Homo sapiens: one gene and its partner. The protein of the gene in region 1 interacts with the protein of each later gene in a biochemical or structural test. Each region holds a gene or a part of one and is shown on either strand. Other genes may lie near its edges.

The links.
Region 2: the proteins of KHDRBS1 (region 1) and FNBP4 form a complex in vitro, tested with the Homo sapiens proteins (2 studies listed by BioGRID and IntAct, with this or other methods).

The regions. Positions count from the first base shown.
Region 1 is NC_000001.11:32,012,024-32,015,774, reverse strand, and holds the start of KHDRBS1 (KH domain-containing, RNA-binding, signal transduction-associated protein 1), read right to left. Parts: upstream 1,908-3,751; 5' UTR 1,780-1,907; coding exon 1,398-1,779; intron 1-1,397. UniProt on the Homo sapiens protein: Recruited and tyrosine phosphorylated by several receptor systems, for example the T-cell, leptin and insulin receptors. Once phosphorylated, functions as an adapter protein in signal transduction cascades by binding to SH2 and SH3 domain-containing proteins.
Region 2 is NC_000011.10:47,718,693-47,722,443, reverse strand, and holds part of FNBP4 (formin-binding protein 4), read left to right. Parts: intron 1-2,357; coding exon 2,358-2,515; intron 2,516-3,751.

The sequences.
Region 1 (3,751 bases):
CCAGGCTCAACATATATTAACACTTATCCATGCTAGAAAGAATTCATACATCCCAAACCAACAGTAACCTCAATCACATTTCTCCAATTTCAGTTGGGTTTAAAAAAAATACATCCAGAAAGCCCAAGTTAAAAATAAAGAGCACTCTCTTAGTTAAGCAGTGAGGGGAGACTGAAAATTAAAAGTAACTTTTAAGGATCAACAGTTTTTGACAGTTATCTTAAGAAAGCATAAAAGATGAACACCACACTGGTAAAGATCCCTTACCTTACAGTGTTGGGAGACAGAGAACAAAGGGAGGGAGATAATATTTTCATAATGAACTGTCCATTATATTAACCTTGCCAAAGAGTCCAACTACTCATTCAGTGTTGAAGGATGTGAATTTTTACTTGCTTAGTAAAATTTAGGTATCATAAAAAATATTAAAATAATATTTTAACTAGAAGCGAAAGTCAGACAGCTTTAGGGAAAAATCAGAGCGACTAGGTGATTGGCCAGTGCTGATGAGGAAAAGAGCGCTAACCTACAGAACAAAGACTCTCATTTCTAATCTATTTCACTACTGAATCAAAAATGTAAAAAACAGCAACAAAAAGGCCAAGCCTTTCAGTACAAGCATCATGCAACTTCTCTCAATTTCTGTCCATCTCGTTGGGAAACGTCATGTGAACTACGCGGGAGTCCCTATCGTCCCATTTCACTGTCTCTAGGGTTACTTCACTCCTTCAACGACAGTGAACACACGGTGTAAAATGGCTCAGTAGCAATTCTTATTTTATCAGCCTTAGTCGGAAATCTGATTCGGAAACCTCAAGCTCCGATCCACATAAATCGCTCCTTCCTCCCAGCAACTTAAGCTGCGGTTACCGCTAAGTCCGGCTCGGCCCCAGCGACAGCAAGGCACTGGACAGGGCATTCCAGCCTCACCCCACCTCACCTCGGCCCTTCCTCCCACGGTCCCTCCCCGCTCTGGCTGTCTTCACCTCCTACACCTCGGTCGAGGCGCTCATCGCCACCCGCGATCAAAAAGGGTTTCCCTTCAGGGAAAGGGGGAAATGAAGGTTCATTTCTGGAAGAATCTGCGCGCCCGGCAGCCGCAAGAGGAGGGAGGAGGGAAGAGTCGGGAAAGGGGCGGGGAGCTCAGCACTATCCATCAAGACATTAGCGCTAGGGGATCGCAAAGTCGCCTTCGGGCCTCCACTGCAGCCTAGAAATTCTCCCACGCACTCCGGGCTGAGGTGGGAATGTGGAATCCAGGCTCCCAAAAATGAGGATGAGACCGGAACTCCCGACTGCCTCGGTCCCGAGGGGGCGGGAAGCGAGAGGAACAAAGCCAGGGCCACTCATGCCCGGGATGGCCGGGCGACCCAGAGGGACACGGGAGGCCCCCTTACCTGCCGTCAGCAGCTGCATGGCGTGAGTGAAGGACGGGTCGAGCGAGTCCTTCTCGGCCATGAGTTCGGGCAGGTACTTGTTCTCTGGCTCCATCTTGACCGAGGCTGTGGCCGAGGGGGGCAGCAGCGGGGTCGGCGCTGGCCCGCCCACTGTCGCGTCGGGACCCGTGGCCGAGGGCGGCAGCAGCGGTGGCGGCTGCGTGGCGGGCGAGGCCCGGGCGCCCCCGCGGGATCCCCCTCCGCCTCCCCGGGACCGGTGAGGCAGCGGCGGCTGCCGAGACGGCGTCTGACGCACCGAGGGGTGGGCACCGGAGGGGTCCATGGAGCCGCTACGGCCCGAAGACCGGCTCATGCGCGCGGCGGGGTCGTCCCGGCGCTGCATCTGGGAGGATGTGCGATCCAAGGAGCGAGAAAGCGACGCGGCAGCGACGGAGGCCCGAGCGGCGGTTGGCGGGGGTGGCAGAGCGGGAGCGGTAGCGACCGAAGCCGACCCGAGCGACCCAGCGAGAGAGAGCACCGGAAATGAGGCGGCGCGCGTGCGCAGCCAGCCACCGGCACCGCCCTTGGGTTTCTCCGCGGAGAACAAAGTCCCCAGTCCGGCCACGGCGCCTGCGCACCGCCGCGGCGTCCGAGAAGTCGCCTCCCGACTCTGGCTTTCCCTCCGCTCCCGCCAGGCCAGAGCTTGATGCGCATGCGCGGGAGGCAGTGGGCTCCGTTCGTTTCGTTTTCCACGTGACTCGGCGCTAGCGGAACACGTGTCTCCTCCCCTTTCTGGCGTGGAGGGGGCGGGAGCTGTGGAATGTCTTTGTCTGCGCGCGGGCCCGCGGAGTGTGGGGCGGGAGACCTGTTACTCGCGGGGCCACGCCCTCTCCAACGGCTGAGCAGTGGAGGGAGGCTGTGGGGAGTGGGGTGGGGGGCGGTCACCGAAGTAAGGAAGTAAAAGACTGCCGAGAGGGTCACGGAAAGGGGAGGGAGAGAGAATTGAGACCGCCTGGGGAGGAAGACAGGAGTGAGACAGACTGCACAGGGAGAAAGGAAGGCTGAGGGAGAGTCTGATGCAGGGGGAAAGTTGGGGAAGGGAAACCTGGAGGGAGAAATTGAGGAAGGACGGCTTGGTGGAAACACTGAAGGCGATTGGAGTACTTGAACTAAGAGGGATGGTTCAGATCAGAGATCTGAAGTCTAGCAAAGAAAAGGGTCCCAGACATCAGGGAACACAAGAAGTTGTTTCCAGTATATATATTTCCAGTATTACATATATTCCAGTCGGTTCTAAAACGGTTGACATTGTTGGTACGGGAAATCTTAAGCAGCATTTTAGCTCTTTTTACATATTTTACTGCTTTTTCTGAATTGTGTTTGTTTTGTTTCGCCGTCATTATTGCCAATTAAGTGTTTCTTCCTTCAAAAAGTGAGGTAGAGACCAGATCCTTAATCCACGTTGGTTGCATCATTAGGATGGCTTCTTCTACCACTCCAGACTTGCTCAAAGAGACCCTTGCCACTACTCTCAAAGGCAAGGTACATAGTGGACAGTCGCCTACGACGTTCTCCACATCCTGGTGTGCTATATGCAAGTGGAGCCTTAGGTCCCTACTTGTCCCATAAGCCATCAAAAGCCTGGTGCCCTCTCTAACTTTCCCTTCCCTCCGCAGATTATTTTCTTCTTCCATTTAAAGCACTCACTCCCATCTCTTTTCCTTCTGGATTAGTTCTCCTAATGAGCCCACACTTTTCAAAAGTCTTTGGGGACCGGTGCGGTGGCTTATGCCTGTAATCCCAGCACTTTGGGAGGCCTAGGTGGGAGGATTACTTGAGGCTAGGAGTTCGAGAGCAGCCTGGACAATATAATGAGACCTCATCTCTACAATAAAAAAAGTTTCCGCCCGGCTTGGTGGCTCATGCCTGTGATCCCAACACTTTGGGAGGCCGAGGTGGGCAAATCACCTGAGGCCAGGAGTTCGAGACCAACTTGGCCAACATGATGAAACCCCATCTTTACTAAAAATATAAAAATTAGCCGGGTGTGGTGGTGCATACCTGTAATCCCAGCTACTTGGGAGGCTGAGGCAGGAGAATTGCTTGAACCAGGGACGCGGAGGCTGCCGTGAGCCGAGATCACGCCACTGCACTCCAGCCTGGGCAACAGAGCGAGACTACGTCTCAAAAAAAAAAAAAAAGGAAAAAAAGGTTTATTTGGAAATTGTCTTCTGAGTGCCTGGAAACTTGATTTTTGGATGTGAAGCTTAGAACCCTTTAACTAGAGAACCTAAAGGCCTTCTTTAAGGGGTTAAGGGAGAGGATTTCCAAATTACCCACAGAAATGAAAACAAAACACGTATCTACATAAATTA
Region 2 (3,751 bases), on another chromosome or scaffold:
GCCAGCATCACCCAGACGGGTCTTCAAACATACAACTGCTTCTCTTAAAAAGCATAGGGATAAGCTATTAAAGAGGCTGAGGCGGGAGAGTCGCTTGAACCTGGGAGGCTGAGGTTGCAGTGAGCTGAGATCGCACCACTGCATTCCAGCCTGGGTGACAAAAGTGAAACTTTGTCTTAAAAAAAAAAAAGAAAAACGGGGATAAAAATTGGTCTTATCAATATCTAATATATTTGTCAGATACTCTCCCTAGGGGCTTAGGATTTAGCAGTACATCAAACAGACAAAAAAAAAAAAAACCCTCTGCTTTTGTAGAACCTTTCTTCTGGCAGGGGGTGGCTTGGGAGTAGATAAGGGAAAAATAAATCTATGAGAAATATTTTTTTTTCCTTTTTTTTTTTTTTTTTTTTTTTTTTTTTTTTTTTTTTTTTTTTTTGAGTCAGAGACATCCGCCACCACCCCCAGCTAATATGGCAGTTTGCTTTGTTGGTCTTTCCAGCTTTATTTTTTAGCTTTTTTTTTTTTTTTAATCATTTGATAGGAATGCTGCATCTATTTAAAATTTGAAAATGGGAACGCTGTAATTCTGAGGAGACGAGATAAAGGCAATATTTTGAATTGCATAGGGTAGGGAGGTTAAAGGAAATTTATATGACCTGATTTTATAAAATACCACATTTACAAATACCACCTTTTGAAACGGAGTCTCAAGAAAAGGGGCAAAAAATCTGTATGTTTATTATAGACGATTTAGACAATGAAGGTAAGCGAAAAGAAAAAATATTATATCATTATACCTTCTCTTAGAACTAACTGTATCATTGATTTTTTTTGGCAGGGGGAGGGGAGACAGAGTCTCTGTCACCCAGGCTGGTGTGCAGTGGCATGCTCTCAGCTCACTGCAACCTCTGCCTCCCAGTTCAAGCACTTCTCATGCCTCAGTCTCCTGAGTAGCTGGGGCGACAGGCATGTGCACCACCATGCCAGGCTAATTTTTGTATTTTTTATATTTTTAGTAGAGGTGGGTTTTTGTCATGTTGGCCAGGCTGGTCTCAAACTCCTGGCCTCAAGTGATCCACCCACCTTGGCCTCCCAAAGTGCTGAGATTACAGGTGTGACCCACCATGCCTCGCCCCATTGATGTTTTATTTTATTTATTTATTTATTTTTATTTATTTATTTATTTATTTTTGAGATGGAGTCTTGCTCTGTCGCCCAGGCTGAAGTGCAGAGTAGCTGGGACTACAGGCGCCCACCACCACGCCAGGCTTATGTTTTGTATTTTTAGTAGAGACGGGGTTTCACCGTGTTAGCTAGGATGGTCTCGATCACCTGACCTCGTGATCCTCCCGCCTCGGCCTCCCAAAGTGATTACAGGCATGAGCCATCGTGCCCAGCCGATATTTTTAAAAATCTGTTTGCTTTTTTTCATATTTAATTATGGCTATTTATTTATTTGAGACAGAGTCTCACTGTGTTGCCCAGGCTGCAGTGCAATGGTGCAATCTTGGCTCACTGCAAACTCTGACTCCCGGGTTGAAGCGATTCTCCTGCCTCAGCCTCCCAAGCAGCTGGGACTACAGTCGCCCACCGCCGCCGCCACCGCCCCCGGCTAATATGGCAGTTTGCTTTGTTGCTCTTTCCAGCTTTATTTTTTAGCTTTTTTTTTTTTTTTTTAAATCACTTGGGAGGAACACTGCATCTATTTAAAATTTGAAAACGGGAACACTGTAATTCTGAGACGCGATAAAGGCAATATTTTGAATTACATAGGATAGGGAGGTTAAAGGAAGTTTATATGACATAATTTTATAAAATACCGCATTTACAAAGCTTTATAGATTTTATTTATTTATTTATTTATTTATTTATTTTTTTGAGACGGAGTCTCCCTCTGTAGCCCAGGCTGGAGTGCAGTGGTGATCTCGGCTCACTGCAAGATCCGCCTCCCAGGTTCATGCCATTCTCCTATCTCAACCTTCCGAGTAGCTGAGACTACAGGCGCCCGCCACCACGTCTGGCTAATTTTTTGTATTTTTAGTAGAGACAGGGTTTCACCATGTTAGCCAGGATGGTCTCGATCTCCTGACCTTGTGATCCGCCCGCCTCAGCCTCCCAAAGTGCTGGGATTACAGGCTTGAGCCACCGCGCCTGGCCTGCTTTATAGATTTTTAACCAAGCCTTTTTGTTTATAATTGGTAAGAAATTTATGGCAAGAACTTAGAATGGTATTTACTTTCTTTTTTAAAGTGTGCATATTCTTTAGAACTGGGAAAAGGATCCTGACCTCCATTGTAGAGGACGCTTATCCTTATTTTATGTTTTCTATTCCTTTTGACCTTTAACCTTTGTTACAGGCAAAGAAGAGTAAGACCAAAATGCCATCTTTGGTAAAAAAGTGGCAGAGTATCCAGCGTGAGTTAGATGAAGAGGACAATTCTAGTTCCAGTGAAGAGGATCGGGAATCAACTGCACAGAAGCGAATTGAAGAGTGGAAACAGCAGCAGCTGGTTAGGTAAAAGAAAAGGAAACACAGATGAGATGGGGTTTTGGAGTAGGTTGAGACCTACTATGAGATGGAGTAGGTTGTGGTTGTTATAGATGCATTAGAATAGACATATTCTTAAAATCACAGCTTGTAAATTTATCTAAAGGTTTCTAATTTATAAACATGTTTAATTCCTTATAGAAATTATGGGCTAGCCTTTTTTCAAAATCAGAAACAACAGAGTTGTAATACTTTGTCCAGTTGATTGTTGGTCTTAGGCAAAGGCCTGTCTTAACTCTCAGTACATCATTTACTATCTAGATCCAGTGGACCCTTTTATACACACACACACACACACACACACACACACACACACACATACACACATAACATATTAACTTATTTTACAAATAATTTATAGAATTAGACCCTTTTATACACACACACATTATTGTACAAATGATTTACAGAATTAGAATAAAGTTTTTCCCCTGTCCCTATATTTCAGTCAAGCAGGGTAGAATACAGAGCTGCCTTCTCAATTGCACTTATTCTAGAACAGAAGTTAATGAGAGAGCACACCACACTAGGAACTAAATGAACCTCTTCTAGGTAAGAAAATCCTTCACTACCTTGCTTGACTAGAATAAAAGGATAGGGAGAACTGGCTTCAAGTAATTGCACCTCAGCCTCCCAGAGTGTTGGGAATACAAGTGTGAGCCACCACACTCAGGTCAGAAATATTTTTTATGATGAAAGCACATGTTGGGCTGGGCACGGTGGCTCACGCCTGTAATCCCAGCACTTTGGGAGGCCAAGGCGGGTGGATCACGAGGTCAGGAATTCGAGACCAGCCTGGCCAACATGGTGAAACCCCATCTCTACTAAAAATACAAAATTAGCTGGGCCTGGTGGCGAATGCCTGTAATCGCTGAGGCAGAAGAATTGTTTGAACCCGCGAGGCGGAGGTTGCAGTGAGCCAAGACCGTGCTATTGCACTCCAGCCTGGACGACAGAGCAAGACTCCATCTCAAAAAAAAAAAAAAAAAACATGTTGGGTGGGCACTGTGGCTCACACCTGTAGTCCTAGATGCTTGGGAGGCTGAGGCAAGAAGATGGCTTTCTCAAAAATTCTAGAAATTTTAAAGACTTTAGACACAGCAAGTACAATTTTTTATTTCATATTTTCCTTGTTTTGAAGGTATACATTCTGAAATGGGCAGCATTCTTTGACTGCAACTCACTGTTCATCAATTGTCAGTG